7 linked regions of the Homo sapiens genome follow. The protein of the gene in region 1 interacts with the protein of each later gene in a pairwise test. Each region holds a gene or a part of one and is shown in the gene's direction. Other genes may lie near its edges.

Region 1 (3,500 bases):
GGCACAGGCTGGAAAGAGGAGGGAGTGGACTGGCAGGGAAGATAGAGCAGTAAGCGAATAGAATACCTGGGGAAAGGGACGCCAGAAGAGTGATTGTTGTCTGGTGAACTGTGCTGTCAGTGTGTATGTCAGAAGCCAACAAAGTGGATATTCTCTTCACTCAGCTTAGGGAAAAAATTAATTTTTGTTTCACAGATAGATTCGTTTCCTTCCCAGGAGTATTATAGGCCTAATTACTGTCATAGTTCTCAGTAACTTTAAAAAGGCTGTGGGGAAGAATGGCATAACAGACTAGTATCTTGTACCCAGCCTGCCTTTTTCTTATTCTATTTTTTTTTTTTTTTTTTTTTTTTTTTTTTTTGAGACAGTCTTGCTCTGTCACCCAGGCTGGAGTGTGGTGGCACAATCTCAGCTCACTGCAACCTCCGCCTCCTGGGTTCAAGCGATTCTCCAGCCTCAGTCTCCTGAGTAGCTGGGATTACAGGCGTATGCCACCATGCCTGGCTAATTTTTGTATTTTTAGTAGAGATGAGGTTTCACTATGTTGGCCGGGCTGGTCTCCTACTCCTGACCTCAGGTGATCCGTCCACCTTGGCCTCCCAAAGTGCTGGGGTTATAGGCATGAGTCGCTGCGCCCGGCTTTTTTATTTTTTATTTTTTATTTTTTTGAAACAGAGTCTGGCTCTTTCACCCAGGCTGGAGTACAGTGATCTGATCTGAGCTCACTGCAATCTCTGCCTCTGGGGTTCAAGCAGTTCTCCTGCCTCAGCCTTCCAAGTAACTGGGACTACAGGCATGCACCACCATGCCTGGCTAATTTTTGTACTTTTGGTAGAGATGGGGTTTCGCCATGTTGGCCACGCTGGTCTCCAGCTCCTGACCTCAAGCGAACCACCCTCCTTGGCCTCCCAAAGTGCTAGTATTACAGGCGTGAGCCACAGCACCCGGCCTTTTTTTTTTTTTTTTCCTTAGAGTCTTGCTCTGTCACCAGGGCTGGAGTGCAGTGGCGCCGTCTCGGCTCACTGCAACCTCTGCCTCCTGGGTTCAAGTGATTCTCCTTCCTCAGCCTCCCTAGTAGCTGGGATTACAGGTGTGTGCCACCACACCCAGTTAATTTTTGTATTTTTAGTAGAGACGGGGTTTCACCATGCTGGCCAGGCTGGTCTCAAACTCCTGACCTCAAGTGGTCCACCCACTTTGGCCTCCCAATTAGAATTAGAGGTGGAGCGACCGTGCCCGGCTAAGGGCCTACTATTTTTTTTTTTTTTTTTTGAGACAGAGTTTCACTCTTGTCACCCAGGCTGGAGTGCAGTGGTGTGACCTTGGTTCACTGCAACTTCCACCTCCCAGGTTTAAGCGATTCTCCTGCCTCAGCCTCTGGAGAAGCTGGGATTATAGGCGTCTGCCACCACGCCTGGCTAATTTTTTGTATTTTTAGTAGAGACGGGGTTTCACCATGTTAGTCAGGCTGGTCTCAAACTTCTGATGTCAGGTGATCCACCTACCTCGGCCTCCCAAAGCATTGGGATTACAGGCGTGAGCCACCGCGCCCGGCCAGGCCTCGTATTTTTGCTTTTGCTCATGTTTTCATGTCTGAGATAGAGGGCCTACTATTAAAGCACTGTGCTGAGGCTGCAAGAAGGTACTAGTGTGATTAAAACAATCTGGTCCGGGCGCGGTGGCTCGCACCTGTAATCCCAGCACTTTGGGAGGCGGAGGCGGGCGGATCACGAGGTCAGGAGATCGAGACCATGCTGGCTAACACGGTGAAACCCCGTCTCTACTAAAAAATACAAAAAAAATTAGCCGGGCATGGTGGCGGGCGCCTGTAGTCCCGGCTACTCGGGAGGCTGAGGCAGGAGAATGGCGGGAACCCGGGAGGCGGAGCTTGCAGTAAGCAGAGATCGCGCCACTGCGCTCCAGCCTGGGAGACAGAGCGAGACTCCGTCTCAAAAAAAAAAAAAAAAAGAAAAAAATAAAACAATCTGGCATTATAATGCCATCCTGATTTTAGTTAATCTAGTTGACTGGCTGGCCTCATAAGTAGCTGTGATGATCATAATTTTTATGCGAAACACCTGTCATTGAGCATACAGGTGTACTGAAAGAATTGGGTGGAACAGGGTATTTGAAATCAGAATTGTTCTGGAAAGTCGGGTACATAAAGCTCTATCTTTAGCACAGTTGTCTGTATTGCACAATTAATATTTATAGAATGGTACACCTTATGTTATCTTTTTATTTTTCCACCTAACTCTCTCTCTAGATTGAAAGGTACTTGACGTGCAGAGCAAGATCTTATCTTTCTTTGTAGTCACAGTACTCAAGAGGGTGATAAATGTTTGTTGATGATAATGTAATGTCACCTGTCCAAGTGTAGCCATCATCTTCAGTAGTTACTTGATCTGCTGTTGTGTCTGGCAAGACTGCTATGTGCTGCTGCAGAGGAGCCATTGTCACCTTGAACTATCTCTGTGGCAGTCTGGAGGAGGGCAGGAGGGAGAAGGGAAGGAATAAATGAGCAAAGCTGAGTGTGGATAGTAGTGTTTGACGGCAGATGAAAAAGCAAACTTGGTGAAGTGTGGCCTGGGTGGTCATCTAACTTCTACCTAGAAGACATTAAACCTTTACTCTCTTCTTTTTATGTAGGAAGGCAGAGGGAAAGTCAGGCCTTCGGTTGGCTTGGTAATAGCAGGTATCCCAGTAATTAGAAAATAACTTAAAAAACTCCATTCCTCTACCATATACTTGAGAATTTGTCAATCTCAGCAAAATTTTCAAATGTCTGTGTTCAGTGTCATATTTGTCCTGCTCTGTAAGACTTTTTGTGTTTATAAAAAGGCAAGTGGACCCAGAAGGGGAAAAATATGCTGTTCTGAGAAACTAGCTGCTGTAGGTTATGCTTTTCTGTCTTTGCTTGTGGCTCTTCTGGTTATTTGAGAAAGGCAAAAAAACCCAAAGTCTTTTTTCTACTCTGTTCCCACAGTCACTCAACACAACACTTCTGATACCAGATATATGGGAGTTGTTTCCCCATACACCAAGCAATTCTCTAGTAGACACACCGGTGCGGTGTCCTCTAAGTCAGTTAAATTCTGATACTCTATCTGGAGATAGCGTCAGATCCCACCAATTGAGGGCTCAGTCCCACAAAACTGTCCCAACTTGAGGCACTAGTCACAAGTAGTAAATTGTCACCTATACTTCTGACCTACTAGCTATAAATCGAAAGTTCTGACAATCCCTCCTCGAGTTTGATTAATCTGCTAGAGTGGGTCACAGAACTCAGGAAAACACTTTACTTACATTTACCAATTTACTCTAAAGGATATTAAGAAGGATACAGATGGCTGGGCGTGCTGGTTCATGCCTGTAATCCCAGCACTTTGGGAGGCCAAGGAGGGCAGATCACCTGAGGTCAGGAGTTTGAGACCAGCCTGACCAATGTGGTGAAACCCCATTTCTAGTAAAAATACAAAAAAATTAGCCGGGTGTGGTCG
Region 2 (3,500 bases), on another chromosome or scaffold:
GATCTGACACTTGGCCAGAAGCCAGTGCCTTTTGATACTACAATGTGCACAGGCTAACTTCCTATGCATTTTGTCTTTCTGAGCAAAAGACACTGGATGAGAAATAAATCATGTGAATTATAAATAACATGGGCATGAATAGAATTTCAAGTTCACTGAGAATCGTACTTGGAAGTTAAGAGAAGTCATAGGATATTATGGTTATTTTTTAAAAAGGGACTGGCTGGGTGTGATGGCTCAAGCCTGTAATTCTAGCACTCTGGGAGGCCAAGATGGGAGGATTAATAGAGGCCGACAGTTCAAGACCAGCCTGGGCAACATAGCCAAACTCTTTCTCTATAAATACTAAAAAAATAGCTGGGTGTGGTAGCAGGCACCTGTAGTCCCACTTACTTAGCAGGGGCTGAGGAGGAAAGATCGCTTGAGCCTGGGAGGTTGAGACTGCGGTGAGCCATGTTCCTGCCACTGTACTCCAGCCTGGGTGACAAAGCAAAAAAAAAAAAAGGATAATGCATGCAAAATGCTTATCATAGAACCTGGCAATACTAAGCACTCAAAGATGAACAAATGTTAGACAAAACTTTCTGTGATCTGACTTCTACATACTGCTTCAGCCTTATCTTATAGCTCTAATTATTAACTAGCTATCATTTTTCTCATCACTATACTTAACTGGACAGATAATCTGTATTTCTTTGAAGAATGAGTCTGAATTTTTAGTTACTCATGAGCCCTTAAACATAATACTATTAGTGCTTTCCAATCCATATGCCTTTTAAAATTTTAAAACATGTGCTTTGCTACTATGATATGGGATAGAGTTGGAGTTTATTAAACCTTGTTAATTGCCCAATATTTTTTCTTTCCTTTCCTTTTTTTTTTTTTTTTTTCTTTTTTTGACAGAGTCTCGCTCTGTCACCTAGGCTAGAGGCAGTGGCACAATCTCAGCTCACTGCAACCTCCACCTCCCAGGTTCAAGCAATTTTCCTACCTTAGCCTCCTGAGTAGCTGGGACTATAGGCGCGTGCCACCATACCTGGCTAATTTTTGTATTTTTAGTAGAGACGGGGTTTTGCCATATTGGGAAAGCTGGTCTCCAACTCCTGACCTCAAGTGATCCACCTGCCTTGGCCTCTATTTTTTTTTTTAATAAGAATTGAAATAAAATTAAATCTCCATACTACATGTTTTTTTATATAAGGATCACCAAAATATAATCAGGTTTGCAGAAATAAGATAAGCAACAATTACTGACAATCTACTGATGTAGTGAACATTTTAAATGGCTATTTTTGATGCATATAATGGAACTGCCCTCGAAATGTCAGTCAATATTATCATTGTGAGCCTTCTTCTTGGCTTAGATGAGAAGTGGAGAGGTTATGTGATTCTCTTTTTTCACGGTCTTTGCCTCGTTCCCCTTATATTTGCTGCATGACTTTTTCATCACTGTTCTTGCCAGTGTCACATAGATAGCTAGTTAATGATTAATCCAGGCCTGGAAACCAGATTTTTTTCCCCAGACTCTGAGAAATTCCATTAAACCTACTTCACATTGTCTCTTCTGCAGGATGATAGAACAGAGATCTTTCTTGCAGGTCTTATTTCTCTATGTGTTGATTTTAAGTAACTTCTAAGAACTCATAATTTCCTGATCCCAAATTTTGTGGTAGAAGTTGTAACAAGAGTTACTGTTTTGGCAAGGGACAGAAACATATTAAAAAGCCTGCACAGATATGAGTCATGCTTTTTTGTTCTTTCGTGTTATACTTGCTTTTACTTTATCTTTCATGGCCAAATCCACTCTGAGTTCCCATCTTTCCTTAACATAACTGTCGCTCTCTATCTTATATATTAAGATATAGGATTGGGAGGGGTGGGGGAGAAAGGTAGGTCAAAGGGTACAAAGTTTCTGTTAGACAAGAAGACTAAGATCTGGTGATCTGTTGCACAGCATGGTGACTATAGTTAATAATAATGTATTGTATATTTCCAAATTGCTAAAAGATTAGATTTTAAATGTTCTTACCCCAAAGAAATGGTAAGTTTGTGAGGTAATGGATATGTTAATCAGCCTGATTTGTTCATTCCACCATGTATATATGCACTGAAATATCACATTATGCACCATAAATATGTATAATTATTATTTGTCAATTAAAAATAAAAATTAGGCCAGGCACAGTGGCTCATGCCTGTAATCCCAGCACTTTGGGAGGCCGAGGTGGGCAGATCACCTGAGATCAGGGGTTCAAGACCAGCCTGGCCAACATGGAGAAAACCCAACTCTACTAAAAATACAAAAATTAGCCAGGTGTGGTGGCGGGCGCCTGTAGTTCCAGCTCGGGAGGCTGAGGCCAGAGAATTGCTTGAACCTGAGAGGCGGAGGTTGCAGTGAGCCGAGATTGAGCCACCACACTCCAGCCTGGGTGACAGAATGAGACTCAGTCTCAAAAAATAAAAATAAAGTAAAAAATAATAAATTAAAATTAAAATTAAAAAAATACAGAATTTCAGAGCTTGAAAGGAACTTTTAATTGATTCAAGCCACCCCTGTTAAATATACAGGGTAGGAAATAGAGAGTATATATGACTCATTCCATTTGTTTAGTTTTTTTTTTCCCTCTTACCCTAAGAATTTCTCACATTTTCATCAGCTTGGCATGAGTTGTATATTGATTCATGTGTTTCTAAGTAGTAGGGAAAATATCCCAAACATTGGTTTATAAAATGCCTTTAAAATATAGGAGATCAATTAAAATAAATACAGGAAGTCAACAAAGGTTTTAGAAAAGTGATGCTTCTCTCTAGGACTCTGTCCTTGCCAGGAGCCAGTGCTCAAGGAGAATCGGAGCTTTATTTTGTGACACAACAATTTTCTTTAACTCCTCCTTAGAATTCCCAACCAAATTGGTAACTGGGAGCAATACACTCAATACTCAAAAATAACTCATGAACATGTAGTTTCCTTTTCATTTTTACTGCTGTTACCTTAGTTCAGGACAGTATAATTTTCTGCTTTTATCAGTGCATTAATCTGTGGCTTTTCTGCCTCCATTTATGCAAGTCAGAGTTGTAAACACAACTATTTTACTCGCTTGCTTAAGAGTCTCCCTATTTATTATAGGATAAAGGCCAGGCTTCCTAGCATGTTAGACAAAGCTTCCTATGATCTGACTTCTGCATACTTATTCAGTCTTATCTTATGCCCATCCTTAAAATTTGTCCTAATTTTCCTCCTTAGTTAGGAAAAAAACTGAAGATGCTTAATATATCTTTCAAAGCTATGCACCATAAAGTTGGTGTTTTCTGTTTCAGACTTATTATGTTATTTCCCACCTTATACTCTAAATTAAAATAATGAAGAATGACTTGTGGTTCCTCTAAATGCCTTGCTCTTCATTGCCTCTCAGTTTTTGCATGAGTTTCTCCTATGGTGAATACATTAGGAATGTTTTGGCTACATTTCTCAGAAAAGTGGCTGATGGTGGCTTAAACAT
Region 3 (3,500 bases), on another chromosome or scaffold:
AGGCTGAGGTAGGAGAATGATGTGAACCCGGGAGGTGGAGCTTGCGGAGAGCCGAGATCGCGCCACCGCACTCCAGCCTGGGCAACAGAGCGAGACTCCGTCTCAAAAAAAAAAAAAAAAAAAAAGAGAAGTATTAGACCACAGATGGGGATATCCTTAATAAGGCATTGTCTGTATTACATAGGAGACTTACTGTATGGGTGGACATTATAGAGAAGGAAGAAGTTCAAGAAGAGCTTAGAGAGTAAGTGATTAATCCCTAGGGAAATTGTGCTTTCCCTCTGAGGGCACAAAGGATACCACTGTGTTCTCTTATCTGAAGCTCCATGATACTAGAGTCTGACATGGAAGATTGTCTTCTGTATCATTGATCTGACTAGGATGGCATTTTAAAATGTTCTCTTTCTAAATGGAGAGAAGCAAAATTGTGTCAGTGATCTTAACCAGTAGAAAAAAAATGCAAAGAAAGTATAACCTGTTTCTGGAGAGGTAACTTTTGACTGATCAAGCAAAAATTTTCCTCTTTGGTAAAGACTGATCTTCATGATAAGTGGTAAGTAAATTAAGCACCTTTTAGAGGAGAGGTAACTCTAATAGTTTCATTCAACAAAAGTTGACTGAGTGCCCACAATGTTCCAGGCACTGTGCTAAAGTCTGAGAGAGATTGACACAGTTTCTGCCCCTGAGAAATTTATAATTAGGTTGGAGAGACAGACCCATAAGCAGATACTGCAACATAGTGTGGTAAGCTCTGCATTAGACACACACATAAGGATTTATAGGGAACCAAAAGGGCATTCTCTAAGCAGCGTCTCAAAAGATACCATTGAACATAGCTAAGAATATCCACCACAGGGGCCCTGGTCTCACTTTGTTGATGAGTGTTATAGAGCAAAATGATTAAATTGAAACTTTGACAGTTTAATACTCTATGGGTATATTAATGGCATGCTTGTTGCTACATTCATTTCAAAATGAAAGTTGAAAAGCTTTATTAAATGAAGTGAGAAGATTCTGTGCATTTGACCTAGTGCTACTAGGTGGTTCAGAGGGTGACAATGGGGTGCCCCATATGATAAATGAAACGTCTATGAGGATAAACTAAGAGATTGTAAATGTAGAACTGAGTGTGAGGGAGATCACTTAAAACTCTAGTCAAGGTGACCTGGGTATAATCTCAAAGAGAGGATTGGAGTGTGGCTGAAAAAATGATACTTGTTATTACATGTACCAGACATTATTCTTAGGACTACTTTCAGAAGTAGGTATTTTTATTGTTCCCTTTTTGTAGATGAAAAAATAGGCTTAAAGAGGTTAAGTGTAACTTGCTTAAGATCACACACACAGAGTAAGTGGCAGTACTATCTGGTTGCAGAGCTCATGCTCTTTCCCATTCAAGCTTATACAGTCTTAGAGAGGTTTGAGTAAGTAGGAACTTAACTAATTGTGATGTACTTTGTCTGGAAAAAGAATTTGAATAGATATTCTCAGTCCAGCGCATAGGAGAGGAAAGCCCAAAGAGCTGTTCTCAGTACCTACCGCACTACCTGCTGCACATCACAGAAAGGGCTAAATCTGGCAAACACAGATGTAGACCCCAGGGAAATGTTCTTGGATGTGGGTTAGGGATGGTTCTGTAGGCTTCACTGTGGCCTAGATAAATCTTCCTCCCTTTGTTCTTGCTCCATACTTGTTAGTTTTTCATTGTTCATTTGGTTTTACAGGTACCTAGCCACTCAGAAAGAGGGAGCCTTGGATAGTAGTCACTGAAAAGGACTACTATTTCAAACCCTCACTTCAACCGTATTCCTCGTTGTCAAACAGCTTTCTGCATTAGTCTCATGTGAGCTGGGGTAGCTGAGTGTGGGTCTGTTCTGTTCTGGGGCAGTGACAAGATCCAGATTCCTCAACCTATTAATACAAAGGTGAGGCCACAATTTCATGGTGTCAGTGACAGCAAGAGGGAGTTCCTGGAGTAGCAGTGCCGTGGGGCCAATGCCATTCATGATGGCATGGAGGCTGCAGTATCATGCTCCTTGGAGGAGGCAGCAGTGGTATCTTGCTTGGTCCTGGAGTTTCATGTGATTTAGAATGCAGATGTATTATCTTTGGCTGTGTATTCTCAGAATCTGGGTCTTTAGACCTCTTGATGAAACTGAGCTACCCATTCCACTTACATTATAATAAGTTCATTTTTGTCTTTAGTGGAAAAAGAAAAAAGAAGAGGCCTACAACTTGGATTGCTATGAATTCACCAAGGTAGTGCCATACTGTTAGGCACTGTATGTATGAACAGCCAGCCCCTCTTGCTTTGCCAGGACACTGCACTCACATGCTTGTGTGTGTGTAGTCAAAGCAGATTAAGATTAGGATACCAACTGTAAGGACTAATTACGGCAGTTTGTCACAGCTTCGCCAACCTAGCCTTTTTTTCTTCTAGATTTTTTAGGATTGAAGGCAGAAAGGAAAAACATCCTTCAGGAAATCCTTCAGGAACTTTTGGATTATTGAGATTTGCACTAAATTGGATACAGTTTTACTCATATTTATCACCTACTTTCTTTGCCCTAAGTACTTCTCGAGAAAATTTAACCCTGCCAGAATTTATTGAAAAATGTAACTTATTCCTAAATAACTTGAATAAAAACCTTAAGCCATGACTTCAAATAGCACATCAGTAATACCTAATCATTTTAGCTGTTTATTTCTGTATGTGCATTTCCTAGCAGTCTACACATACAGATGGTTCCAGCTGGTTTTAGTTTTGCACCATTTCTCTATTTTATCAATCTGCTATTATAAATACTAGGAAATAAATGTTTAAAAGGGGGAAAAGAAGCAAAGGGTGTAGCTGATGTGCAGATTGGGATTGAATGTGGGAATGAGGGGTGATGGGAGTGATTGGAAATATTGCAGCCCTGCATAGTCTCCATCAGGGATGTGACAAAGTGGATAATCTCTACCACGTGAGAAACTTCCAACATTACTTGCAAATCAGATTTAATGAATAAAATAAAGCTGTAGCACTTGGCACATTCATTGGGACCCTTACCCAAACATTATCAATATTGTGTACGTTATCTTTATTATCAGGTCACAAAAGATGTCATAAAAGAATTTGCAGATGACGGCGTCAAGTACCTGGAACTAAGGAGCACACCCAGAAGAGAAAATGCTACTGGTAGAATTTATACTTCTCAGCAAATGTACTGTCCTTTTCCTATGTGCTTTGATCACTCACATGTTTGTGAGTGGGAATATGAAGCACTAACTTTTATACTATTGTGTTGTTCTGTATTTCATTGAACCTTTAGTCAACAGTCCAAGTCCTCTCTCTGATGTACATTAATGATGTTCATTTTGTTTGTTTTAGAGACAGGGTCTTGCTGTCTTGCCCAGGCTGGAGTGCAGTGGTGCAAACATAGCTCACTGTAACCACAAACTCCTGGGCCCAACAATCACCTCAGCCTCTAAAAGTGCTGGGATTACAGGTGTGAGCC
Region 4 (3,500 bases), on another chromosome or scaffold:
GGAAGGACTTAAATTCCACTTCTTGAAGAGGAAGGAATATTAAAGAACTTATGGACATATTTAAAACCACCACAGGCCAGGCACGGTGGCTCATGCCTGTAATCCCAGCACTTTGGGAGGCCAAGGCGGGTGGATCATGAGGTCAGGAGTTCAAGACCAGCCTGACCAACATGGTGAAACCCCATCTCTACTAAAAATACAAAAAAAAATTAGCTGGGCGTGGTGGCGCGCACCTGTAATCCCAGCTACTCAGGAGGCTGAGGCAGGAGAATCACTTGAACCCTGGAGGCAGAGGTTGCAGTGAGCTGAGATCGCGCCACTGCACTCCAGCCTGGGCAACAGAGCAAGACTCTGTCTCACAAAAAAAAAAAAAAAAACACACACACACATAAATAAGTAATAGGACCTTTGACAGGCAGCTTTTTTTTTTTTTTGTGACAGGATCTTGTTCTGTTTCTCAGACTGGAGTGCAGTGATAAAATCATAACTCACTGCAGCCTTGAGCTCCTGGGCTCAGGCAATCCTCCTGCCTCAGCCTCCCCAGTGGCTGGAACTATAGGCACGTGCCCCCATGCTTAGCTAATTTTTTATTTTTTGTAGAGACAGGATCTCACTATGTTGTCAGGCTGGTCTCAAACTCCTGGCCTCAAGCAATCCTTGCACCTTGGCCTCTCAAAGTGCTAGGGTAAGGTGTGAGCCACTGCACCTGGCCAAGGATGTCTTTTTTTTTTTGAGACAGGGTCCCGAGACAGGGTCCCACTCTGTCGCCCAGGCTGGTGTGCAGTGGCATGATCTCGGCTCACCACAACCCCCTGGCTCAAGTGATTCTCCTGCCTCAACCTTCCGAGTAGCTGGGATTACAGGGGCGTTTGCCACTACCACCCAGCTAATTTTTGTATTTTTAGTAGAGATGGGGTTTCGCCATGTTAGCCAGGCTGGTCTTGAACTAACCTCAAACGATCCACCCGCCTTGGCCTCCCAAAATGCTGGGATTACAGGTGTGAGCCACCGTGCCTGGCCCCATTTTAATTTTTTAAACTAAATTTTAGGCCAGGTGCAGTGGCTCACTTGAGCCCGGGAGGTGGAGGCTGCAGTGAGCCGAGATTGCTTCACTGCACTCCAGCCTCGGCCACAGAGCAAGACTCTGTCTCTAAATAAATAAATAAATAAATAAATAAATGTAAATAAATGAAAATAAAAATGATTCTAACCTTTTAATATTTTTTCTAAACTCTTGATAGCCCTAGTGGCTCATTTAGGAAATGTCACTATGGGCTAGAAATATTAATTTGTAGGTCAGCAGTTTCCTTAGTTTCACTTCAGTTTGGTTTTCTTCTGATAAATTCAAGTAAAATCAAAGTTAAATTTTTTACTTACAAGTAGCATTTGTGATCCAATTTTTCCAAACACTTCTATCTAGTATCCATTCAACCAGCCAGCATTTAATCTGAACACATGCTACAAAGATGACTGGAATGGTGTTCACTTAATGATAATGATGGTTATTTCTAGGTGGATTTGGAATGGTTACTTAAAAGAATAATGTTAAAATGTTTATATTTTTTGAGATTGAGTAATGGTACATGGAGATTTGAAGTTTTGCACACACACAAACAACTAAAAAAAGTGAGCCCTGCCACCACTTCTACTTAAAATTATTTGTTAGTGATTTCCCATTGTTTTTAAGATTAAATTCAGGGGTCTTAATGTGACCCTGCATGATCTGGTCCCTGCTTGCTTGCCTGCCTTGCACTATACTTTTCCTCCATGCTCTTTTTACACTTAAAATCATCTTTTTTTTTTTTTTCTTTTTTTTTTTTTGAGACAGAGTTATGCTCTGTCATCTAGGCTGGAGTGCAATGGCGCGATCTCTGCTCACTGCAAGCTCCACTTCTGGGGTTCATGCCATTCTTCTGCCTCAGCTTCCTGAGTGGCTGGCATTACAGGCCCCTGCCACCATGCCCAGCTCATTTTTTTTGTATTTTTAGTAGAGATGGGGTTTCACCATGTTGGCCAGGCTGGTCTCGAACTCCTGACCTCGTGATCCACCCGCCTCAGCCTCCCAAAGTGCTGGGATTACAGGCGTAAGCCACCGCGCCCAGCCTGATTTTTGTATTTTTGTAGAAATGGGGTTTTACCATGTTGGCCAGGCTGGTCTTGAGCCTCCTGATCTCAGGTGATCCGCCCACCTCGGCCTCCCAAAGTGCTGGGATTACAGGCGTGAGTCACCACGCCTGGCCTCCTGTGTATTTTAAATCAATTACTTAGAACAGGGGTATTCAATCTTTTTGCTTTCCTGGACCACATTGGAAGAAGAGTTGTCTTGGGCCATATATAAAATACAGTAATGATAGCTGATGAGCTTAAAAAAAAAATCACAAAAAAAATCTCATAGGCCAGGTGAAGTGGCTCACGCCTGTAATCCCAGCATTTTGGGAGGCTGAGGCGGGCGGATCATGAGGTCAGGAGTTCAAGACTAGCCTGACCAACGTGGTGAAACCCCGTCTCTACTGAAAACACAAAAATTAGCCTGGCGTGGTGGCATGCACCTGTAATCCCAGCATTTTGGGAGGCTGAGGCAGGAGAATCGCTTGAACCCTGGAGGCAGAGGTAGCAGTGAGCCAAGATCACGCCACTGCACTCCAGCCTGGGCGACACAGCAAGACTCCATCTCAAAAAAAAAAAAATAATAATAATAATAATTTCATAATGTTTTAAGAAAGTTTATGAATTTGTGTTAAGCCGCTTTCAAAGCCATCCCAGGCCCATGGGTTGGACAATCTTGACTTAGACTATCTAATACAATGTAAATACTGAGTAAATAATTGTTCTATTTTATATATTTTGTATTTTTTAATTGTATTGTTATTTTTTCCCTAATATTTTTGATGTGTGGTTGGTTGAACCCATGGATATGGAGGGCCCACTGTATGTTTAAATTAATAAACAATTAAGTGCTTGTCATATGCCATGTTCTCACTGTAACCCCATGAGGTAGATATTATTATCATTCCCAATTTTCACCTCCTTTACCTGTTTGAGTTTCCTCATAAGGTATCATCTGAATAAAAGATTCTACGGCTGAGAAAGCTAGGAGGTCTGTGCACTATGCCAGGCTACCTTTCATGCTGCCTGAGCTCATAGTATGGACATTTTTTTTTCTTTTTGAGGTAAAGTCTTGCTCTGTCACCCAGGTTGATCTCGAATTCCTGGCCTCAAGCAATCATCCTGCACAAAGTGCTAGGATTACAGGTGTGAGCCACTGTGCTCAGCCTTAAACTTTATTCAGGAATTGTTGTTGGCCAGGTGTGGTGGCTCACGCCTGTAATTCCAGCACTTTGGGAGGCCAAGGTGGGAGGATCGCTTGAGTCCCAGAGTTTAAGACTAGCCTTGGCAACATAGTGAGATCCTTTCTCTACAAAAAAATTTAAAAATTAGCCAGGCATAGTGGTTGGTGTGTGCCTGTAGTCCCAGCTACTTGGGGAGGCTGAGATGGGAAG
Region 5 (3,500 bases), on another chromosome or scaffold:
CGTGAGCCACCGCACCCAGCCACTCTGCAACCCTTCTCACAATGCAGGGATTCTGTCTGCCTCACAGGGGCATATGCCCCATCCTACAAAAGACTCCGAACGCAGAGCCTTTTCCTGGGGCCTTGGGCTGTGCAGAAACACAGGCTGGGGCGTGCAGTGATCTGGTCCTGTGTTGTGTGTGGGACTGTGCATGACGGTCTGAGATGCCAGGGGAGGGGTGTGGAGGCAGCTTGGGGGTGGGGCCCAGACTTTGAGCCAAGGGAGCACCACCCAGCCACGCCAGCCTGGCCCCAGTTCTCTGAGCCAACTCTTGGAGCCCAGTGGCCTCCTGCAGTCCATAGACAATGGTCTGAGCTTCCCTGCTGTGTGGACACCCCTCCATGCTGTGCTGCATTCAGGCTGGCTACAGACGAGGGGCGCGGAGCCGTGAGGCTTTGGGGGCTCAGGGCCACTGAGCCAGACCCTCTACCAGGCCCCATAGAATCAGCAGACCCCTTTGGTGGCCAGAGGAGCCCGCAGCCCTGGAGCAGTTCCTGGGTGCCACGTAACCCCTCCTGTGGTGTGGAGGGAGGCTTGTGAGGCTGGCCCACGAGCAGTGAGGGGCCGGGGGTGCTGATGCCTAGGGGTGAAGGAGGGTGCAGAGGTGGGCGGGGTGAGGGGCCGGGCCAACCTCCTCCTCCTGTGGCCATACAGGGGTGCACCTGCCCAACCTGGACCAACTGAAGCTGAACGGCAGCCACCTGGGCTCCCTGAGGTGAGCGCCTGAGGGGGGTGGGCTGGGGCCCTGCCATGAGGGGGTCCGATGGGACAGGCCCTGCAGGGATGGGGGGAGAACTTGGTGGGAGTGGGGGGACTTGGGCTGGGACCAGGGACCCAGGGGTCTAGAGAGCTCCATCCTGCTGGCTGCCTGACCCCACGTGACCCTGTGGAGGGTGGATGGGCAGGTGGGGGGAGCCTGGGACATTCAGGCAGGTGTGAGGGGGTCTCTGAGAGGGTCTTTGTTGAAAGGACGAGGTCCTGGGCCAGCCTGACTCCCGGGGGTCCTGCCTATGCCCTGTGGTCTCTGGCTCAGCCCAGATGTACCCCCACTTGCCGTGTGACCCCTACACATGGAGCTCTTGTGTCTGCAATGGGTGGGAGCCCCTGCTGCAGGTAGCACCTCACTCAGAGCTGGGGCCAGGGCCAAGGCAGTCATGCCAGGTCGTGTGGCCAGCAAACTCCACAAAGGTGCCCCTGACCTGGGCCCAGAGCTCCCACCTTGAGGTGTCCCTGGTGAACACCCCAAAGCCAACCAAGGACTGGGGGCCTTCTGGCCCCCGCACGGCTCATTGCAGCCCAGGACTTTGGCTGCACCATGAGGCCACGAGCTTGGGGTTTGGGCAAGAACGGCAACCACCAGCCAGAACCTGCACGTAGAACCCAGACCAGACGGCAGCCCCTGGGAGAGGCACAGCCAGAGCCTGTGTAAAGAACCCAGACCAGACGGCAGCCCCCGGGAGAGGCACAGCAGAGCCTGTGTACAGAACCCGGACCAGACGGCAGCTCCCGGGAGAGGCACAGCAGAGCCTGTGTACAGAACCCGGACCAGCTCCCAGGAGAAGCACAGGAAGCTCCGTGCCCCACAGCAACTCACAACATTCGGAGCTGAAGACGTTGGCGGCTCTCACGTCATCGGAAGGGAAAGAACAAGGCTGAAGGAACATCCGACTTTATTCTGGGGGTTTGGGCAAAGTGGGTTTTGTGAAAACGCTGCTGGTTTTATGTAGCCTGTTCCCAGCAGCATAAGGCAGGGGAATTCCAGGCAGAATTCTAGAACATTCTCCAGCTGTGTGAATTGGGCTCCAAGGGCCACATCTAGTTATTTCCAGATGAGGATAAGGGTATTCATTAAGCAACCTCTCTTTGAATGTTTTCTTGATTTTCCTTATTTGTACTTCTGTTTATCAAACAAATATCAAAATGGGCCGGGCACGGTGTCTCACGCCTATAATCCCAGAACTTTGGGAGGCCGAGGTGGGCAGATCACCTGAGGTCAGGAGTTCGAGACCAGCCTGACCAACATGGAGAAATCCCATCTCTACTAAAAATACAAAATTAGCCGTGCATGGTGGCACATGCCTGTAACCCCAGCTGCTCAGGAGGCTGAGGCAGGAGAGTCGCTGCAGTGAGCCGGGAGGCAGATGCTGCAGTGAGCTGAGATCACACCACTACACTCCAGCCGGGGCAACAGAGCGAAACTCTGCCTCAAAAAAATAAAGTAGGCCAGGCACAGTGGTTCACGCCTGTAATCCCAGTACTTTGGGAGGCCAAGGTAGGCAGATCACGAGGTCAGGAGATTGAGACCATACTGACTAACATGGTGAAACCCCGTCTCTACTAAAAATACAAAAAATTAGCCGGGCGTGGTGGTGGGCGCCTGTAGTCCCAGCTACTCGGGAGGCTGAGGCAGGAAAATGGCGTGAACCCAGGAGGCGGAGCTTGCAGTGAGCCAAGATCGCACCACTAAACTCCAGCCTGGGCGACTGAGTGAGACTTCGTCTCAAAAAAAAAAAAATACATGAAGATCTGGAAATGGAAGAAAGTTGGAAAACACTTTGGGGTCAAAGACACAGTGGGCAGCCCACAGAACTGGAACAGAGAGGGGCCTGGACATGAAGTCAGGCCTGCAGCAGGCACCCAGACGACACCGCGAACGAGAAACTAGGATGGGTTTGGAAAATGGACTTCTTAGAAACATGTCTCCCAGCCAGGCGGGTTGGCTCACACCTGTAATCCCAACACTTTGGGAGGCCAAGGCAGGCGGATCACGAGGTCAGGAGTTCAAGATCCGCCTGGCTAACGTGGTGAAAACCCATCTCTACTAAAAATACAAAAAAAAAAAGAAATAGCCAGGCATGGTGTGCGCTTGTAATCCCAGCTACACAGGAGGCAGAGGCAGGAGAATTGCTTGAACCCAGGAGGCGGAGGTTGCAGTAAGCCAAGATTGCTCCATTGCACTCCAGCCTAGGCAACAAGAGCAAAACTCCATCTCAAAAAAAAAAAAATTAGCTGGGCTTGGGCTTGGGCTTGGCGGTGCATGCCTGTAATGCCAGCTGCACAGGAGGCTGAGGCATGAGAATCACTTGGACCTGGGAGGTGGAGGTTGCAGTGAGCTGAGATCGCGCCACTGCACTCCAGCCTGGGTGACAGAGCAAGACTCCGTCTCAAAAAACCGTAAAAAACAAAAACAAAGAACAAAAAAAGTGCCCCTAATACAAGAGTAAATGATATTCTAATGGAGATGGCTGTACTTTTTTTTTTAGCTTAACAAATAAGCCTCTATTATTTTGTGTTTTTTTTTGTTTTGAGACAGAGTCTCACTCCGTTGCCCAGGCTGGAGTGCAGTGGCGCAATCTCGGCTCACTGCAATCTCGCCTCCCGGGTTCACGCCATTCCCCTGCCTCAGCCTCCCGAGTAGCTGGGACTACAGGCGCCTGCCACCACGCCCGGCTAATTTTTTG
Region 6 (3,942 bases), on another chromosome or scaffold:
TTGTGTAAAGTGCAAGCTGCTACAGAAATACTTTGTGGTGTCATTAACGATACAGACTCTACGCTTATGTAGTGGGCAATCTCTCCAACTAAGGAGCTTCAAACAAAGACCCGTATCTGGACGGGCGCAGTGGCTCACGCCTCTAATCCCAGCATTTTGGGAGACCTAGGGGGGAGGATCACGAGGTCAAGAGATCGAGACCATCCTGGCCAACACGGCGAAATCCCGTCTCTAGTAAAAATAAGAAAATTAGCTGGGCGTGGTGGCGCGCGCCTGTAGTTCTTGCTACTCGGGAGGCTGAGGCAGGAGAATCGCCTGAACCCGGTACGCGGAGGTTGCAGGGAGCCGAGATCGCCCCACTGCACTCCAGCCTGGCAACACAGCGAGACTCCGTCTCAAAGCAAAAGAACAACAAAAAAGACCCCCCAGTATCTAAAATAGCACCCCGAGGAGGGTCAATACGTTTGAATAAATGATGAACATCCAAGAAAATGCAATTCAGCTGGACTCACCTGGATTGCACTCCAGCAGTAGGTGTGGAGGTCTACTTGGTTTTCCCAAATAGATTTGCGCCAGGGTCTCAGCCAATCTCCGATCGGTTACGTAACGCTTAAAGTCTAAGCTGGCCTTAGACGCCTTCCTTGGCGGATTCCTGAAATCCGGTTCGGGCCACAGCTGCGGAGAGGAGTCAGAGAGCCCACAGTGGTTCCTCGCCGGCAAATGCTTTCGCGTCGCCGCTTCAGACCCTAAAATGCAAAAGCGACCAGCGCCCGCCAAGGCGGAGAGCCTCAGCCGCCGAGGAAGCCCGACCACTGGGATCCACATGTCCTTGTCTCTCAGGCCCGCTCCAAGAATCACCTAGTGCAGCTACTACAGTGAACCCCACGCAGGGTATCCCACGTGGAACATTTTCTGGCGTCCGGGCCAGGTCAAGCGGAAGTAAACACTAGAGCCTGCGCATGCGAACAGCGGAGCCTTCCTGCTTTTCTCCCTCACTTCCGCTTCCGCCTCGGCTCAGCCGCCCGAGGATTGTGAGTGGACCGTTGAGGAGAGCGACCGACCATCCGGCTGGTGTCCGGACTCGTACTCTATGGTTGTCCGCGCTCTGCGCTTCCTCTCTAGCCGCCAGTGCTCTATGCTCCGCGGTCGCGGGCCGCCAGCCTCCAGCCGGCCAGCCGCGAGGGGTGCGCAGAGGGAGGCGGGGCGGAAAGGCGAGAGGTGTCTCCTCCACCGGAGCCAGGGGAGACCCGAGCAAGCTCCGTGACAGCACGTCGGCCGCCATGTCGCCGAGTGGGGCTGGAAACAGACCCGGCGCCCAGCGGTAGCCCTCCTTGCGCCTCCGATTCCCAGGTGAGGAGAGGAGGAGCGGGATGCAGGGGACCCGCCGGCTCGCGGCCGGGATGGAAAGCCTTTCGGAAGCCTCTCGCTCCTCCCCCTGCGCTGTCCTCCTCCAGCCGCGCAGCCTCTGCCCTCCGGGTGAGGTGTAGCCCGGTCCCCTTACCTCCTCCGCCTCTCAGGTCGCCTGTTTTCCTCTCCTTTCTCAGCTACTGTGGGTCTCCTATTGCTGCGCGTCGCGCCAATTTCTCCCTCCCTAGGGGACTAGCGCCAGAAGTCGTTCCTCACCCGGCTCCTGGAGGAGCCTGCGGCTTCCACGGTCTCCGTTCCTTTCTGTTGTGTGGCCCACAGCCCGCTCTCCCCACCCTCGTGGATGGTTTTCATTTCCCCCCCACACCTGGTCCCCCCCATCACTACCACTTTGGTTGTCAAGAACCGCGTGGTGTCTCCCTTCCATTCCTCTCTCTGGGCCAATATTTTCCTTAATTTTTTCAGTTTGTGTGTTTAAAAGACTTAAAGTTAAGATTAAAAATGAAGATGTAAAAGCTTACAATTCCTTTCTAAGCTTAAAAAGATTAAGACTTTAGGATGCTTACTGTATTCCTTATGTAAACTTAGTCAAACACATCGTACTGTGGAATGCGATTTAAAAGACCCAATTTTGAAGACTAAAAATAGGATGCTGTAATGGAAATTTTGGCAGTCTTTTTTTTTTTACCTATTGGGCAATGTTAGAAGACACGGTTCTTTGAGAGTGTTTTCCGTGTTTCAGGATCAAACTTAGAGCTTTTACCCATTATCCTTACCACCAAGGCAAGAAACGGCAGCCAATCAACTCCGTGTCTTAGAATACGTACAATCCTTTCTGCTTACTCTACTGAGAGTGTAATTGAGTTTGGCATTTAAATGCACGAGGAAAAGGTTCCTAAGGAATGTATCACCCAGCAAATAGTCTGAAGATTATACTCATCTGATGAAGCTCAAGCGGATAAAGAATTGACAACTAAATATGACCTTTTGTGTATTATAAATTTGTTAGGACATCATAGAAAATATCTCATCAACTGTTGTGCAAACTGTGGGGACTCACTCATTGGTCTTAATTTGCTTAAATTCTTTTTTCGTACAGTTTTCTCACTGACAATTTTCTAGAGGTGACTTTGCATCCTCTGAACCTCTCTCCATTACTGAGCTGCCTCCCCCTCTCCCCTTAAAAAACATTTTCATAGATTCAGAAATACACTTTTTTCCCCCTCCAGGACCTGGAGTCCTAAATATTTTTAAATCAGATAAAATAGAATTATGTCTTCATGGTTCACTCATAGAAATGTGTCGTTGAATTTCTGACTTTTTAAAAAAAACACTGTGGTGGCTGGGTATGGTAGTTCATGCCTGTAATCCCAGCACTTTGGGAGGCCAAGGTGGGAGGATCACTTGCTGCCGGGAGTTCGAAGCCAGACTGGGCAACATAGACTCTGTCTCCTTAAAAAAAAAGAAAGAAAGAAAAAGAGAAAAAGAAAAATAAACACATTGTGGTTAAAAACAAAACAGTTATTTTAAAATGCACTGTCTTATTTCATAATGTTTGTGGACCAAAGTTAGCCTACTGAGTCCTAGAAAAACTGATGTCATTTTTTATTTTGCTTTTGAGTGTTATTATTTTCTCTTGGTTTTGGGAAAGAGAATTACATTATAATATTCCCTTTTTACAGTGTTGATGGTTCACTTGTTTGTAATTGAAGGTACTTGAATAATAAGAGATTTTTGTACATCTTATTTTTTTTCTGAGGTCCCAGGTGCTGAGAATGTTGATTTCACCTTAAAGATGAACTTTATGATCAGGATTTAGACATACTTTATTAGAAAAACTTGATTAGTGTGCAGTATTTCCCATCTTTTTTCTTAAGAAGTGTGGTTTTCTATCCTATGCTGTTTTTGCCTTTTTGAAGTAATTTTGAGATGGAGTCTACTCTGTCGCCTAGGCTGGTGCCATCTCGGTTCACTGCAACCTCCGCTTTTCGGGTTCAAGCAGTTTCTCCTGCTTCAGCCTCCCGAGTAGCTGGGATTACAGGCTCCTGCTACTATGTCCAGCTAATTTTTGTATTTTTAGTAGAGACGGAGTTTCGCCATGTTGGCCAGGGTGGTCTTGACCTCAGGTGATCCTCCGACCTCCACCTCTCAAAGTGCTGGGATTACAGGCGTGAGCCACCACGCCTTTAAAATACTTTTTTTCTTGCTTTTTACATTTAAATATATTTATTTATTTGTGAAGGCGGAGTTTTGCTATGTTGCCCAGGCTGGTCTCAAATTCCTGGCCTCATGCAATCCTCCCACCTCAGCCTCCCAAAACACTGGTATTACAGGCATGAGCCACCACACCCAGCCTCTTTTGGCTTTTAAATGACAACTGTAATTGGGAAATGCCAAGTGATAGTCCTTGCTTGCTGTTAGAATTAAGGCTGTAGGTCTGTAGCAGCAGTCTTCAATAGAAATACAATGCAAGCCATATAAGTAATTTAAAATTTTCTAGTAGTGGTATTAAGAAAGTAAAAAGAAACAGGTAAAATTTTAGTAGTATATTTTATTTAATCTTATATATGTTATTTT
Region 7 (3,500 bases), on another chromosome or scaffold:
TTTTTTTTCCCCGTTTTTTCTTCAGAAAACGGACCTCAGAAAACCAGGACTAGCTCTACTGTCGGGGGCAGGGTGACCCCATCAGTAACCTACAACCCCTCTAGAACTTCACAACTCCCTCTCACCATGGAGTTTGCATTTGATGCAGAAAGGCATGTGATCCCTCCCTCCTTCTGACCTCTTAGCTGGGGATTCCATGGCCACACAACCCTGTGACTCCATGTCCCCCCGATTCCAGGACCCCCCATGGCCCCATGATTCCTTGACTCCTATGACCTTATGACCCCTGACCTTCCAAGTGACTTCCTTGGACTTTGACCCCTGTGACTGTGCTTCCCATTCCCCGCCCCCACAACCTGTGACTCTGGCTCCCTTTGGGGGTCTTGTTAGTCTGGGCCTCCCCAGGAAGATGTGGGGGAGGCTCTGGCCCCTCCTCCTCAGCATCCTCACAGCAACTGCAGTCCCAGGACCCTCACTGCGGAGACCGTCTAGAGAACTAGATGCCACCCCTCGGATGACCATACCCTATGAAGGTTAGACCCTCAACCTCAAAAGGCAGCAGAAGCCAGGGCTGGGGGTGGGGAGGCACCCCAGAACTAGGGCTCACTGTTCCTGCTCTCCCCAGAGCTCTCTGGGACCCGGCACTTCAAGGGCCAAGCCCAGAACTACTCAACACTGCTGCTGGAGGAGGCCTCAGCAAGGCTGCTGGTGGGAGCCCGAGGTGCCCTGTTCTCTCTCAGTGCCAACGACATAGGAGATGGGGCTCACAAAGAGGTCAGGCCCTGGAACCTGGACCACCCAGAGGGTCTCTATGCTTATCCAGCTCCCTGGGACCTCAACTTCCTTAAAACCCTGCCAGCCTTCCATAGCCCCCTGGTCAGACAGCACTGCCCTTCCCAGCCCAGGTGTTCCTTGCATTCAGTGTTCCTCCTGAAATTGATCCCCACCCCAATTTCCCCAACTCTGTGGGGTCCTATTGCCTGGTCCTATGAGTAATAGGTATTGGGGTCAGTGCATCAGCCTATTCCCTTTGCCTCCACTAGATCCACTGGGAAGCCTCCCCAGAGATGCAAAGCAAATGTCATCAAAAAGGGAAAAACAACCAGGTATGTGGTCTGCCCTGTCCCCAGCTCCTTTCCTCCCCTTCTTCCTCAATCAGGGATGCCAGGATTGTTGGGGACACAGATGGGTAGGTACAGACCTGCCAGTCAATCTCAGCAACCACAGTAAACATTGTAAGTATTGCCAGAGTGGCAAGCCATGGGCACAGCATTTTTTTTTTTTTCTTTTTTTGAGGTCGGATCTCACTCTGTCATCCAGGTTGGAGTACAGTGACATGATCATAGCTCCCTGTGGCCTTAAACTCCTGGGCTCAGGGGATCCTTCCACTTCAGCCTCCTGAGTAGCTAGGACCACGGGCACATGCCACGCCCAGCTAAGTGTTTTATTTTTTGTAGAAACAGGGTCTTGCTATGTTGCCCAGGCTGGTCTTGAACTCCTGGCCTCAAGCAGTCCCCCTACCTTAGCCTCCCAAAGTGCTGGGATTACAGATGTAAGCCATTGCCCCCGGCATCTGGGCACAGTACTTCTAATTCAACCATCTGGTGGCCTACTAGTTTGTCCCGCAGTGGCATCTTCATCTCCTCTGGGATCCCAAATAATCAAAATGGCAATAAGTAGGCTGAACGCGGTGGCTCACATCTGTAATCCCAACACTTTGGGAGGCTGAGGGTAGGAGGACAACTTGAGTCCAGGAGTTCAAGATCAGCCTTGGCAACACAGCGAGATCTGTCTACAAAAAAAATACAAAAATTAGCCAAGTATGCTGGCGTGCACCTGTAGTCCCAGCTACTTGGGAAGCTGAGTGGGAGTATCACTTGGGCCTGGGAGGTTGAGGCTGCGTGAGCTATAATTAAGCCACACATTCCAGCCTGGATGACAGAGCAAAACCCTGTCTCAAAAAAACAAACCAACAAAAAACAGTAAGTAACCTCTACAGATGCTTACTTACGATGGGTTACTTACCAATAAAACCATCATAATAAATTGAACCATTGTTAAGTCAGCAACTATCTACAGCAAGTGATGATTTAGCTATTATCTCAGTTAATTCTAAAATAACCCTATGAAATAGTATTATCCTGCATTTTGCAGATGAGAAAAATGAGTCTTTGGTCAAGGAATAGGTCAAATACCCAGTATTCCATGGACAGGCATTAATGAAGCATCAGCCCTTTCCAGCTAAAGAATAGGGTGTCTCCAGGGGTCCCATGTCTGGCTAGGTAATGGCTCCATCTGGAGAGCTTTTACAAAATAAACGGCCCTGGGCTGGGCATGGTGGGTCACACTTGTAATCTCAACACTTTGGGAGGCCAAGGCAGGAGGATCACTTGAGCCCAGGAGTTCGAGGCCAGCCTGGACAATATAATGAGACTCTATCTCTAATAAAAAATAATTAAAAAAAAATTCCCAAGATCCACTGGGCCAAGGTGGGCCAGGGGTGGTGTTGGGACAGCTCCGTTTAAAAAGGCATCTCCAAGAGCTTCCATCAAAGGCTGCCTCTTGGTGCAGCACAGGTAGAAAATGGGGCTGGGGAGGCAGATGGAACCAGGTCATGGAAGGCCACAGATGCCCAGCTGGGAGTTTGGGTTTTATTCTGTGACAGTGAACACCCTCAGAATTTGATACTTTAGAGGCTCTAACTTTAATGTATCACCCAGGTATATTATAAATGCAGATGCTAAACTTAGTAGGTCTGGGGAAGGGCCCAAGAGTCTGCAATTCTAACAAGCTCCCAAGTGAAGTTGATGCTGCTGGTCCCCAGACCACACTTTGGATAGCAAGGCTTTATAGAACAGTTCCCAAAGCATGTTCTGAGGAACATTAATTTTCAAAGGAGGGGTTTAAATGTCAAATGAGTTTGGGAAACACTACATGCCCAGTCCCACAATGCACAGCAACATCCTTCAGGCTCTAGGAAGTAAGCCCAGTAAAGATAGGTTTCACCTGTGGTTTCCAAAGTTATTTGACCAGAGAATTCCTCCCTACCCCCCTTTAAAAAATGTAAACATCCGCTGGGCACGGTGGCTCAGGCCTGTAATCCCAGCACCTTGGGAGGCCGAGGCGGGTGGATCATGAGGTCAAGAGATCGAGACCAGCCTGGCCAACATGGTGAAACCCTGTGTCTACTAAAAATACAAAAATTAGCCCGGCATGGTGATGCACATCCATGCGAGTAGTAGTCCCAGTCACATCACCATGGTGTTGAGAGTAGTAGTCCCAGCTACTCGGGAGGCTGAGGCAGGAGAATCTCTTGAACCCGGGAGGCGGAGGTTGCAGTGAGCTGAGATCATGCACTGCACTCCAACCTAGCGGCAGAGCAAGACTCCGTCTCAAAAAAAATAAAATTAAAAAAATAAATAAACATCTTGGGGAAACATCACTTTAGGAATATTTATCTGGCCCCAGGCACTGGATGGATGAAAATAGGGTGAGTCTGG

What was found.
Region 2: the proteins of HMOX2 (region 1) and BAAT interact in binary tests that used the Homo sapiens proteins (3 or more experiments, as listed by UniProt).
Region 3: the proteins of HMOX2 (region 1) and MAPDA interact in binary tests that used the Homo sapiens proteins (3 or more experiments, as listed by UniProt).
Region 4: the proteins of HMOX2 (region 1) and COA7 interact in binary tests that used the Homo sapiens proteins (3 or more experiments, as listed by UniProt).
Region 5: the proteins of HMOX2 (region 1) and LRRC56 interact in binary tests that used the Homo sapiens proteins (3 or more experiments, as listed by UniProt).
Region 6: the proteins of HMOX2 (region 1) and CNST interact in binary tests that used the Homo sapiens proteins (3 or more experiments, as listed by UniProt).
Region 7: the proteins of HMOX2 (region 1) and SEMA4G interact in binary tests that used the Homo sapiens proteins (3 or more experiments, as listed by UniProt).

Annotation. Positions count from the first base shown.
Region 1 is NC_000016.10:4,479,398-4,482,897, forward strand, and holds part of HMOX2 (heme oxygenase 2), read left to right. Parts: exon of another isoform or gene 1-164; intron 165-2,366; exon of another isoform or gene 2,367-2,482; intron 2,483-3,500.
Region 2 is NC_000009.12:101,364,507-101,368,006, reverse strand, and holds part of BAAT (bile acid-CoA:amino acid N-acyltransferase), read left to right. Parts: intron 1-3,500. UniProt on the Homo sapiens protein: Catalyzes the amidation of bile acids (BAs) with the amino acids taurine and glycine. More than 95% of the BAs are N-acyl amidates with glycine and taurine.
Region 3 is NC_000015.10:43,337,172-43,340,671, forward strand, and holds part of MAPDA (N6-Methyl-AMP deaminase), read left to right. Parts: intron 1-3,093; coding exon 3,094-3,181; intron 3,182-3,500. UniProt on the Homo sapiens protein: Catalyzes the hydrolysis of the free cytosolic methylated adenosine nucleotide N(6)-methyl-AMP (N6-mAMP) to produce inositol monophosphate (IMP) and methylamine.
Region 4 is NC_000001.11:52,688,348-52,691,847, reverse strand, and holds part of COA7 (cytochrome c oxidase assembly factor 7), read left to right. Parts: intron 1-3,500. UniProt on the Homo sapiens protein: Required for assembly of mitochondrial respiratory chain complex I and complex IV.
Region 5 is NC_000011.10:544,027-547,526, forward strand, and holds part of LRRC56 (leucine-rich repeat-containing protein 56), read left to right. Parts: intron 1-693; coding exon 694-754; intron 755-3,500. UniProt on the Homo sapiens protein: Required for the assembly of dynein arms.
Region 6 is NC_000001.11:246,565,314-246,569,255, forward strand, and holds the start of CNST (consortin), read left to right. Parts: upstream 1-1,142; 5' UTR 1,143-1,350; exon of another isoform or gene 1,351-1,476; intron 1,477-3,942. Other genes in the region: TFB2M (dimethyladenosine transferase 2, mitochondrial), read right to left, coding at 513-825. UniProt on the Homo sapiens protein: Required for targeting of connexins to the plasma membrane.
Region 7 is NC_000010.11:100,972,504-100,976,003, forward strand, and holds part of SEMA4G (semaphorin-4G isoform 1 precursor), read left to right. Parts: intron 1-25; 5' UTR 26-409; coding exon 410-533; intron 534-625; coding exon 626-774; intron 775-1,043; coding exon 1,044-1,106; intron 1,107-2,481; exon of another isoform or gene 2,482-2,581; intron 2,582-3,500. UniProt on the Homo sapiens protein: Cell surface receptor for PLXNB2. May play a role in axon guidance.